3 linked regions of the Homo sapiens genome follow. The protein of the gene in region 1 purifies or fractionates together with the protein of each later gene. This does not show direct contact. Each region holds a gene or a part of one and is shown in the gene's direction. Other genes may lie near its edges.

Region 1 (3,646 bases):
CACTGCACTCCAGCCTGGGCAACAAGAGCAAAACTCCATCTCAAAAAAAAAAAAAAGGAGAGGGCTTTACACACACTCCCTTCCCTTTCCCCAGTTCTTGTTCATTCCATCCATAACTCTCAGTGTGCTCAACACCAGGTGTGTATATGTTTGTGCTGAGCTGGTAGATAGCGTGTCATGAGCATAATAGGGAACCAGAGGAATTGGGGCTCTTTGGTCCACTAAAGGCCCAGTGACTGGAGCAGGTGACTCTCTGGCCACCCCATCCCCTCTCATGGGCACAGTGTTTTACCGCCGGCACTGGAGTTCATGTGTAGAAGGCAAAGCTGTCCCATGGTCAAGAATGCAGGCTTTCGGCCAGGTGCAGTGACTCATGCCTGTAATCTCCCAGCACTTTGGGAGGCTGAGGTGGGAGGATTGCTTGAGGCCAGGAACTCAAGACCAGCCTGGGCAACATAGTGAGACCTGTCTCTACAAAATAAAAAGTAGAAAAAAGAGCCGGGTGTGGTGGCTCACACCTGCGGTTCCTACTACTCAGGAGGCTGAGGCAGGAGGATAGCTTAAGCCTGGGAGGTCAAGGCTGCGGTGAGCTGTGATTGCGCTACGGTGCCCCAGCCTGGGTGACAGTAAGACCCTGTCTCAAAAAAAAAAAAAAAAAAAAAGCAGGCTTTGGTGTTAGACACTTCACTTCCAGGATCTACCACAAGCTGTGTGACCTTGGATCAGCACTTGACCTCTCTGGTCATTGCCTTCATTTGTAGGATGGGGATTACATCAGCCTCAGTTATAAGCAATGTATGAGCTAATGTATGTGAAGTGCTTGGCAGACACTAAAAACTTAATATTGAGAAATGGTGACTGTCATCATTATTATTGATTCAGAGAAATCCCTGATTCAGGGGAAACGTCATTCCCCTTTTCACTGCAGGCCTAGGCAGGCCCGGGTTAGGGTCCTGGTCTCCTGACATCTAGTTCCTGCTCAAGAGTGAGAACTGTTATTATTATTACTATTATTGAGACAGAGTTTCACTCTTGTTGCCCAGGCTGGAGTACAGTGCCACAATCTCTGCTCACTGAAACCTCCGCCTCCTGGGTTCAAGCGATTCTCCTGCCTCAGCCTCCTGAGTAGCTGGGATTACAGGCCTGCACCACCATGCTCGGCTAATTTTTGCATTTTTAGTAGAGATGGGGTTTCACCATGTTGGCCAGGCTGGTCTTGAACTCCTGACCTCAGGTGATCCACCCGCCTTGGCCTCCCAAAGTGTTGGGATTACAGGCATGAGCCACTGCGCCCGGCTGAGAGCTGTTATTACTATTCTCATTCCTCTGCCCAGCCTCTACCCTAGGCCTCCTCCACAGCAACCTGGTGACTGATTATGAGCCAGAACAGACTGTGCTAGGGGAGGGCCTGTGGGGAAGGGGCTGTGACGTGGTGGGAGACTCTTGGGGCTGCTTTCTGTCTTCGTGGGGCCGCCCCTGTGCACAGGGCAGGCCTGAGCAGGGCTTTTCCCTGGAAGGTACCTGAAGCACACCCTGGACCAGTACGTGGAGAGTGACTACACACTTCTGTATCTGCACCACGGCCTGACCAGCGACAACAAGCCCTCCCTCAGCTGGCTCCGTGATGCCTACCGGGAGTTTGACCGCAAGTGGGTTGGGGCATGGGGCCTGCACAGTCAGATCCAGAGGCAGCGGCTCTGCCAGCTTCCGGGCTGCCCTCCACTTGGGCAGGAGCTTATTCCAAGGCAGGGGGTGGCGGGGGCTGCCGTCTACGTCAATGTAAAGAATCTGCAGTCAGATCACCCTGGGCTTAAGTAAGGCCCAGTTTCTCAGCTTATTTGCACTCTGACCTCTTGTTTTACTTAACCTCTTTGAGCCTCCTGTTTTCTAATCTGTAAAATGAGACAGTGATGGCCCTTACCTCGCATGCTGGCCATGCATGTTCAAATCAGAAAATATGCACTGAGGCAGGGTGTGGTGGCTCACACCTGTAATCCCAGCACTTTGGGAAGCTGAGGCGGATGGATCACTTGAGGTCAGGAGTTCCAGACCAGCCTGGCCAACATGGTGAAACCCTGTCTCCGCTAAAAATACAAAAATTAGCTAGGTGTGGTGGTGGGTGCCTGTAATCCTAGTTACTCAGGAGGCTGAGGCAGGAGAATAGCTTGAATCCGGGAGGTGGAGGCTGCAATGAGCTGAGATCACACTCCAGCCTGGGTGAAGGAGACTCTGTCTCAAAAAAAAAAAGTATGCACTGGGACCCTAGCGTGGCACCTGTCCCACCACGCCTGCTCCTGAGTTGTCCATTCTGTCTCTGCAGGTACAAGAAAAACATCAAGGCCTTGTACATCGTGCATCCAACCATGTTCATCAAAACTCTGCTCATCCTCTTCAAGCCCCTCATCAGGTGAGTGGCCACGGGCAGGGCTGGTGGTCCCGGCTTGCCTGGAACTCTGAAGCTGGGAGGCTGGGCAGCCTGGGGACCACCAGGTGCGGCTGGGCTTCCGTCTGAACTGGGTGGGTGTTGAGGGGAGAGTGGAGGCCACCGGAAGCGGGCCCCCACAACCCAGGCCCTTTCTTCCACCAACAGCTTCAAGTTCGGGCAGAAGATCTTCTATGTGAATTACCTGAGCGAGCTGAGCGAGCACGTGAAGCTGGAGCAGCTGGGGATCCCTCGCCAAGTGCTCAAGTGAGGCGGGTGCGGCGGCTGGGGGCTCGTGAAGCCAGGGTAATGAGGACGTGTGTCCTGATTCAGAGACCGCGTGGGGCTTAGGCAGAGCAAGCCCGTGTCCCGACCTCTCCCAGGTCTTTGCTTTCTGCTGTGGAAAGCGGAGTTGTTACAGAGATCGCATGAGATGATCCTCCTGACCCCGCGTGGTCAATGCTTGATTGAATTGGCAGAGTGACTCCAGAGCCAGGCAGGACCTGACCCACCTCCCTCTACTCCTACAGATATGACGACTTCCTGAAATCCACACAGAAGAGCCCCGCGACAGCCCCCAAGCCCATGCCCCCACGGCCCCCCCTGCCCAACCAGCAGTTTGGAGTCTCGCTGCAGCAGTAAGTATGAAAGGTGGCTGGGCCACGGCGGGGCGGGAAGGGCTGCAGGCCCGGCTCACCAGCCTTTTTCCCGCAGCCTCCAGGAGAAGAATCCAGAGCAGGAGCCCATTCCCATTGTACTCAGGGAGACTGTTGCCTACTTACAGGCCCACGGTGAGTGCCGGGCCTGCCTCCTCACCAGCCAGGTCTCCCGGCTCCCTTCAGGAAGCTGGGGAAGCTGCTGGGCAGGGCAGAGGGAGGTCCTGCAAGCCTCAACGTCCCCACCCAGCCCTGCCTAGAACCCCAAGACAGAGAAGGGGCAGGGAATCCAGCCGGTGCCCAGCGCTCGGAGGCTCACCAGGCCCTACTGTTTCCCAGCTCTCACCACCGAGGGCATCTTCCGGAGGTCGGCCAACACCCAAGTGGTCCGGGAAGTGCAGCAGAAGTACAACATGGGTGAGCAGCCCTGGGCTGTTGCAGGGCCATATGTGTGTTACTGGTAGGGGGCTTCTCTGCCCTCTGCTGCCCTGTAAATGAGAGTCTCAGAGTCTCTTCCTGCTGGAGGTTTCCGTGGCTCTGGGTGTCACATAAGTCCTACTTCTGCCAG
Region 2 (3,646 bases), on another chromosome or scaffold:
TCTCCAGACCCAAAGAGAATAACCTGGAAAGTCAGCTAGTGAGGGTCTGCAAGACCCAACTGAGAGAGCTTAAGAACCAGAGAATTTGGAGGCAGGTGAAGGCTGGAGTTGTATTTGGGGGAGTTTTGTTTGGAGTCAGTCTTTTTTTTTTTTTTTTTTTTGAGACAGGGTCTCACTCTCACCCAGGCTGGAGTGCAGTGGTGTGATCTTGGCTCACTGCAGTCTCCACCTCCTGGGCTCAAGCAATCTTCCCACCTCAGCCTCCTGAGTAGCTGGAACTATAGGCATGTGCCACCACGCTTGGCTAATTTTGCATTTTTTGTAGATGGGGTTTTGCCATGTTCGGGCACAAGTGATCCACCTGCCTCAGCCTCCCAAAGTGTTGGGATTACAGGCGTGAACCACCTTGTCTAGCCTGGAGTCACTGTTAATTTCTTCTGTTGGTCCATGGCAAGGTTTACAGATGACTTTGTTTGGAAAGCCTGAATCTGTTTTTAAAAGCAGGGATGGGGAGTGGGAAATCACAGTAGTTACTACTTGAGTCTATTTAGTGGACTATAAAAATTACTATAGCTTCAGTTTAACCTAATCAGAGCTTGCCATGAATTCGAGCCTGCTTGCCTCTCTTCAGGAAATTAATCTGGGTCATTTGACTGTCCCAGTTAAGCAGGTACATGTTTTAACAGTTTTAAAGGCAATTGCTGCCTGTATTTGGTTTTTCAGAGTATATACCCGGTTATCCTTGCCAATACATTTAAACCTCTTAGCCTACAGATCTTTTCTTTTTACCAGCCTCAGTGTTTTGTGTTTTTCATTTTTTTGTGGAGACAGGGTCTCTATTTCCCAGGCTGGTCTCGAACTCCTGGCCTCAAGCAGTCTGTCTGCCTCAGCCTCTGAAAGCATTGGGATTAAAGGCGTGAGCCACCATGCCCAGGCCAGCCTTGATGTTTATTAATCCTTTTCAGTGACAGTCTCACTCTCCCTCTTTCTTTCTCTAGTGATTCCTTCCTCTGACGCCTGCTCTTACAATAGGCGTCCCTGCGAGAAGAGTCACCCAGTGGCATCAAGAGCTCTGGGCAGGATCCGTCCACTTCCAGAGTGGCCTGAAGAGTGGAACACATTTCTTTTTAGTTAAATGAGTTTCTTCGGTAATGTCCAGAATATAATAGCCTAAGCATGATGGAATCCCCCGTACCCCACCCTATACCCCCTTCCAAACAGAAACAACTGTTGTTTGGTTTTTTGGGGTTTTTTTTGTTTTTTTGTTTATTTTTTTGACACGGAATTTCACTCTGTTGCCCAGGCTGGAGTGCAGTGACACAATCTCAGCTCACCACAACCTCTGCCCCGCCGGGTTCAAGCAATTCTCCTGCCTCAGCCCCCTGAGTAGCTGCGATTAACAGGCACCCACCACCCTGCCCAGCTAACTTTTGTATTTCTTAGTAGAGATGGAGTTGCACCATGTTGCCCAGGCTGGTCTTGAACTCCTGACCTCAGGTGATCTGCCTGCCTCGGCCTCCCAAAGTGCTGGGATTATAGGCATGAGCCACTGCGCCTGGCCACAACTGGGATTTTTAAGAAATTGCCTAGGAGAGAGTTAGTTGAACTTAAGGTGGTGTCTAATTAGAGCAAAGTGCCTTCCATTTTAACTTCAATGAACTTGCCACGTTGGTCTGATGATAACCCAAGAGTAAGGAGTCTTGGATTCTGATCCCAGCTCAGCTTCTAGAGACTTGGTGGTTTTCAAATTGTTCTTGAGGGACTCCTTCAACTGAAGGGCTCCCTAGTTGCCAAGAGTGGTTGGTTCTGAGTCGAGGTGGCTTTGATTTGTCAGCTTTGGTCAGAGAATTCAGGCAGGGGGCAGGAAGTCCGTGTTCTGTAGTTGTTTTGTTATTTTACCCTTTTTATACCTTCCATTCAGGAGAAGTTTATTAGATGAATCCGTGTCCAGAAATAGAGAATTAGTTGCCTTCATCCTTTATATTAATTTCCCTTGAAGTATAAACAGCCAAAGAAGAAAAGTACTTGTGGGAGAAAGGGGGTTCAGATCCTCAAATTTGAAAATAGTTTTCAACTTCAGGAACGTGAAAGGTGACTGTTAACCAAAGTCTGAGTCTCAGGAGCTACTTCATGTGGTATGCTTTTACCTGATGTTATGTTTTAGATATGGCTCATTCATTCGGCACATGTGCTGGGTGCCTACTGTTTGCTGGACACTGCGGAGCCTGGTGGATGCTGGGGGAAGCAGATGGGTCTGGTCCTGGCCTCCAGGAGCTTACTAGTTAAATGTGGGAGTCATTGCTAATCATTTACGTAAGTCATTGTTTAATTTTAGTTGTGGTAAGTTTACAAAGAAAAGAAATGGGCTGCTAGGAGAGCTCACTCTCTACCCTTTTCTCTTCCTTTGTAGACTGTGTGAGGAGCTCTCATTGCGGGTGGGAGACTGATTGCCTGCAGTAATGGGGAGAGGATATGCCTGGTTCCCTCCTCTCACTCCTTGCTTGGACTTTTGTCTTTACAACTTGAACTAAGTATTCTCCATTTGACCTTTTTCCTGCCTCATTATTCTTCCCAGACATTCTCTAGCTTCTACTTTCTGCCTCTTCAGGTGTGCATCAGGGATCTGGTATCAAGGAATTTAGAACTTGAAAAGAAGTGTTATGGTCCAGTTCCCTCACTTTCAGATATGGAAGAAGGGAACACATCCACGGTCACACAGCAGGTTAGAGGCAGAACCAGGACCAAGCCTAGGTCTCTGCATCTCAGCCCAGGGCTTCTTGTTACATTCCTGCAGGAAGGGCTTTCTAAGTCAGCAGGGGCCCAGCGTCAGGGACCTACTTACCCTTGCAGAGACACTGAGAGGACAAAAACTAAGCCCCAAGGGGGCCAACAGCCCCAGACTTCACATGGCCTAGGGTTGTTTTCTATATATCTTGGCAGATTTATCAAGAGTACCTTTTTCCGGGAGCTGAGGAAAGAAAAAAAATATGCCCCATTCCTATCATTAGGGGATTCATATTCTAGAGGAACATAGAAGTCTCACATGTATGGAGAGAGCATAGAGCAGCTTGCTAGGGGCTCAGGTACACACCCTGTGTGAGGGAGAGCTCTGGAGCAGGAGGAGATGCGGAGTCGTCTCCTGGATGCAGAGCAAGGATTTTCCTAGAGAGGTGGAGTCCAGATAGTCCAAGGAGCAGAGGAGTGGAGGCCAGGCTTTGCTAGGGCTAGGAGAAGAGAGAGACCCCCTCCAGGCTTGCGGGGAATCCTGAAAAAATGGTCCACACAGACAAAGAGGGTTAGGAGGTTGTGAGGCAGGGGCTGATTTTGTAAGACCTTGAACTCTGCTCTGAAGGACCAGATCATGGAGCTAGTGGGGTGCCGTGCCTCACTTTCTCAAGGGAGTGGTTTCATGAAAGCTGGGCTTTTGGGAGAGAAGTCTGGTGGCATTTTAGGAGCCCTAGGGGTCAGGAGGCCTAACCAGGGACTTACTGCAGTGACTCAGTTATGGAATGAGGAGGCCCTGGTCACAGGGAGTAGCAGTGGGGTATTTTGAGCTTCTATAGTGCTTGTTTGCAAAACATGATAAATTTAGGTTAATCTCCAAGCTTTAACATAGGAAGTATAACTTCAGTGTTTTTTTTCTTGC
Region 3 (3,646 bases), on another chromosome or scaffold:
GCTGGGTCTCTCTTTTGACACCCCTTTGGGTCAGTGAAAGGCAGAGGGACACATTCTGGTATCCACTCTTCATTCATGTTTATTGAGCATCTGGGCTGCCCCAGGTATCCTGGAAGCCGCCTGGGAAGGCGCAGTCTCCAGCCAGACTGACCGAGCAGCTGCTGTCCCCCACTGCAGGTCGCTGCGGAGGAGCTTTGCTGTCTGCTAGGCCAGGTCTTCCAGGTTGTTTACACGGAGTCCACCATCGACTTTCTGGACAGAGCGATATTTGATGGGGCCTCTACCCCGACCCACCACCTGTCCCTGCACAGCGGTATGTTGAGTGAGAGTGGGCAGCGGGTGGGAGCAGGGACAGGAGGGGCTACTGCAGTGGCCCCCAGCTCCCCATGAGTTACTCCTGGAATAGCGCAGTTACTGCCGTGACATGGTGGCCTTTTGTTTCCAGACTTTGCTGTTCACATTAGCCCATAGGGTTTCATGAAGGCAGAAGTGTCACCTGTCCTTGAGAGAGTTGCACCAGGTCAGCGCTATGGCTTCCTGGAATAAATTTGGGGTCTGTGAACACTTTTTTGGAACCACTTGTGGCTAAAGTCACTTCACTTAACTCGGAACAAAGAGCTTGGAGAAGGCTCCTAGCACTGGGGCCTGTGATGGAATTGGGGAGGCTGAGAGTGGGTCTGGGGAGCCTCCTTTTCAGTATGCCCAGACTATGGCTGCTCTTAATGTGAAACTCCTTCCAGGACCATGGCCAGACCCATGGGAAGCTGCTCAGGCTGCCCTGGGAGGCCAGCTGGCAGTGGTGGAGCAGTGGCAGATGGGGAAGAATGGAAGGTACCCCAGAGCTGTCTCTTCCTGCATGGCCCACACAGCATTTTCAGGAGTCTGTTAGTCCATTGAAAACACTTCATCAGCAAGCTCACTTGAGTTAAGTCTTCAAAAACATCATCTGTTTTTCAGATGTATTACTTATTGAGGATTAATGGGTTATATAAATTGAGGTGCATAAAAAGCTGTTGGAGGCTGGGTGTGGTGGCTCATGCCTGTAATCCCAGCACTTTGGGAGGCTGAGGCGGGCGGATCACCTGAGGTCGGGAGTTCAAGACCAGCCTGACCAACATGGAGAAACCCTGTCTCTACTAAAAAATACCAAGAAAAAAAAAAAGGCTGTTGGAAACAGTGCGGCTTGTTGAGTACAATTTCTTCTTTTTACGGAGATAAGTCCCAGCCCTCTGCCCTTTCCCCAGTAACTCGCACATCTCAGTGAAGAGAGTAAATGGTGGAGAAGCCTGTGCTGGTGTGAGGGCTGCTCCTCAGTGCCTCCTTCTTCCCTTTCTTGCTGCTGGTGCCAGAGCCCTTTGTGGGCACTACACGCCTTGTGTTGGCCCAGCAGCTGCAGAGAGACAGCTGCTGAGCTCTCAGGCATCCTCTCTATCTCATTTAGTCCTCGGTGGCCCAGCGAGATAGGTGCAATCTTCATCCCCATTTTAGAGATGGGGAAGTGGAGGCTTAGAAGTCAACAGCTTATCCAGAGGAATGTACCATATGAGTAGCAGATGATTTATCGAGCTGTAATTAAACATTCAGTTTTAGTGCGACTGGTTTGGCCCTTGTGCTTTAAAATTCCCAAAGGGCCTTTTTTTCTTTAATAATTTTTTTTTTACTGAGAAGTACACAAGTCATACATGTACAGTTGAATGAATTTTCATAAAGTAAACACATCATGTAACACCACTACTGGGGGTTGCTGAAGTGGGCTTCTTCCCCTGCCAGCCTTTCCCAAGACCTCCCCGTGGGATCCACACACAGATGTGCACACGTTACGCACATGCATGCATTCTCTGCTTATTTCTGCCTTGGAGTTTTGCTTGCTGTGTTCTCTCTACTACAGCTATGCCAAAACATAGCAGCATAAACAGCAGAAATATATTCTCTTATAATTCTATACGTTAAGAGTCCATTGTGGGTCCCACTGGGCTAAAGTTGAGGTGTCCACAGGGCTGGTTCCTTCTGGAGGCTCCAGAGAAGAAGCCATTTCCTTGTCTTTCCAGCTCCTAAAGGCGGCTGCATGCCTTGGCTCATGGCCCTTCCTCTGTCTTCACAGCCAGCCACGTGACCTCTTCCACAGTCACATCTTCCTTTGACTGTCAGCTTCCTCTGCATTTCAGGACTCTTGCAATCACATTGAGCCCACCCAAATTCTCCAGGGTCATCTCCCTATTTCAAGGTCAGCTGATAAGCATCCTTTACTCCCCTTTGAAATTGGTAACATATTCACCAATTCCAGGGATTAGGATGTGGACGTCTTTGGGGGGTCATTATTCTGCCCTCCATACTTACCTTGTTCCTAGTGCCAGAAATGTCCCTTTTATCTCTCAGCCTCTCCCTCTGCTTCATTTAAAATCTTACCCTCTCTGCAACACTCACCTGCCTCGCTCACAAAGCTTTCACTCACTGTCTGTGCTGGTGTGAAATGTGCCTTCCTCAGGTTTGAAATAGCAAATTACAGTCTGTGTCACACGGACCTAATGTCATTTGTTGAATGTAGCTGCTCAGTGCCAGACCCTTTGCTGGTCTGAGGGTCTTGGGAATCCTGTGGCTTCACTGGGTTCAGATGGGGAGTCAGACTGCCCGGCTCTGACTGTGGTTTCTGCTGTGTGACCTGGGCCAAGTTGTGTAACTCTCTGACTTACTTCCTAATCTACAAGTGAAGACAGGGGTGATATATGCCTGGGTTAAAGGAGACAAAGCCCCAGTAACCCTGCCTGGCACATGAGTGATACCTCAAAGACAGCTTTTGCTGGCTCTGGCCATGGGTGAATGTGTACTTCAGCCCAGCGTGCAGCAGGATTTGCATTTGCCAGGATCCCCAGGAGGGGTGTATGTGGGCTCAAGTCTGGGAAGCCCTGCCCTGAGGCACACAGCACATTCCAGAGTGCGGGCAGCTTGATGAAGGACAGCAGGGTCCCTGAAGACCAGGGCTGCCGCTGTCTCCTGTAAATACAGCAGTGGGCTGGACTCAAAATGCCTCCCCACTATGTCCCTGAAAGTCATCTTAGTTTTCTGCATCTTCCTTACAGATGACTCTTCTACAAAAGTGGACATTAAGGAGACCTACGAGGTGGAAGCCAGCACTTTGTGAGTGCACATGCCACCAAGCCCTGCGGTGGGACACGCACCAAATGCGTTGTCTGGTGTTGTCCAGGCTGCAGCCAGTCAGCTCCCCCATCTCAGCTCACCCTCGCTAAGCCATCCCCAGACCCACTGTACCCAGCTTAGTGAATGGCTGAGGCCTGGCTCGCCGCCCTCTCCTCGTAGACTTCTAGAGCCCTTGCTGTCCCTCTTGTCTCTCCCTGCCTACCTTCCCATGGCCTCCCAAGAGTGAGCTTGTAATAGGCATGTTGGATGGAGCTGTTCCCCTGCCCGAGCCTGCCGAGGCGCTGGCCTTCCAGCCCATCTCTGCCACCACCTGGGGCTCTGTAGTAGTTCACCCACTCGCGCTCTCCATTCCTGCCACCTCCCCAACCCTGGCTCCTTCCCCTGCCCAACAATGCTGCCCACTGCCTTGACCTGTGTACTCCCTCTCTTCACTCAGAGCCCAACTCAGAGCCATGCCCCCGGGGAGCCCCAGGACCAGGCCAAGCTGACC

What was found.
Region 2: the proteins of ARHGAP1 (region 1) and RPRD1B fractionate together in Homo sapiens (co-fractionation; one large-scale study listed by BioGRID). This does not show direct contact.
Region 3: the proteins of ARHGAP1 (region 1) and CCM2 purify together in Homo sapiens (co-immunoprecipitation; one large-scale study listed by IntAct). This does not show direct contact.

The regions. Positions count from the first base shown.
Region 1 is NC_000011.10:46,680,054-46,683,699, reverse strand, and holds part of ARHGAP1 (rho GTPase-activating protein 1), read left to right. Parts: intron 1-1,517; coding exon 1,518-1,649; intron 1,650-2,320; coding exon 2,321-2,407; intron 2,408-2,590; coding exon 2,591-2,689; intron 2,690-2,952; coding exon 2,953-3,060; intron 3,061-3,136; coding exon 3,137-3,213; intron 3,214-3,417; coding exon 3,418-3,495; intron 3,496-3,646. UniProt on the Homo sapiens protein: GTPase activator for the Rho, Rac and Cdc42 proteins, converting them to the putatively inactive GDP-bound state. Cdc42 seems to be the preferred substrate.
Region 2 is NC_000020.11:38,085,699-38,089,344, forward strand, and holds part of RPRD1B (regulation of nuclear pre-mRNA domain-containing protein 1B), read left to right. Parts: intron 1-998; exon of another isoform or gene 999-1,148; intron 1,149-2,164; exon of another isoform or gene 2,165-2,313; intron 2,314-2,410; exon of another isoform or gene 2,411-2,722; intron 2,723-3,646. UniProt on the Homo sapiens protein: Interacts with phosphorylated C-terminal heptapeptide repeat domain (CTD) of the largest RNA polymerase II subunit POLR2A, and participates in dephosphorylation of the CTD by RPAP2. Transcriptional regulator which enhances expression of CCND1.
Region 3 is NC_000007.14:45,069,649-45,073,294, forward strand, and holds part of CCM2 (cerebral cavernous malformations 2 protein), read left to right. Parts: intron 1-177; coding exon 178-313; intron 314-740; coding exon of another isoform or gene 741-889; exon of another isoform or gene 890-2,101; coding exon of another isoform or gene 2,102-2,224; intron 2,225-3,077; coding exon 3,078-3,135; intron 3,136-3,646. UniProt on the Homo sapiens protein: Component of the CCM signaling pathway which is a crucial regulator of heart and vessel formation and integrity. May act through the stabilization of endothelial cell junctions. May function as a scaffold protein for MAP2K3-MAP3K3 signaling.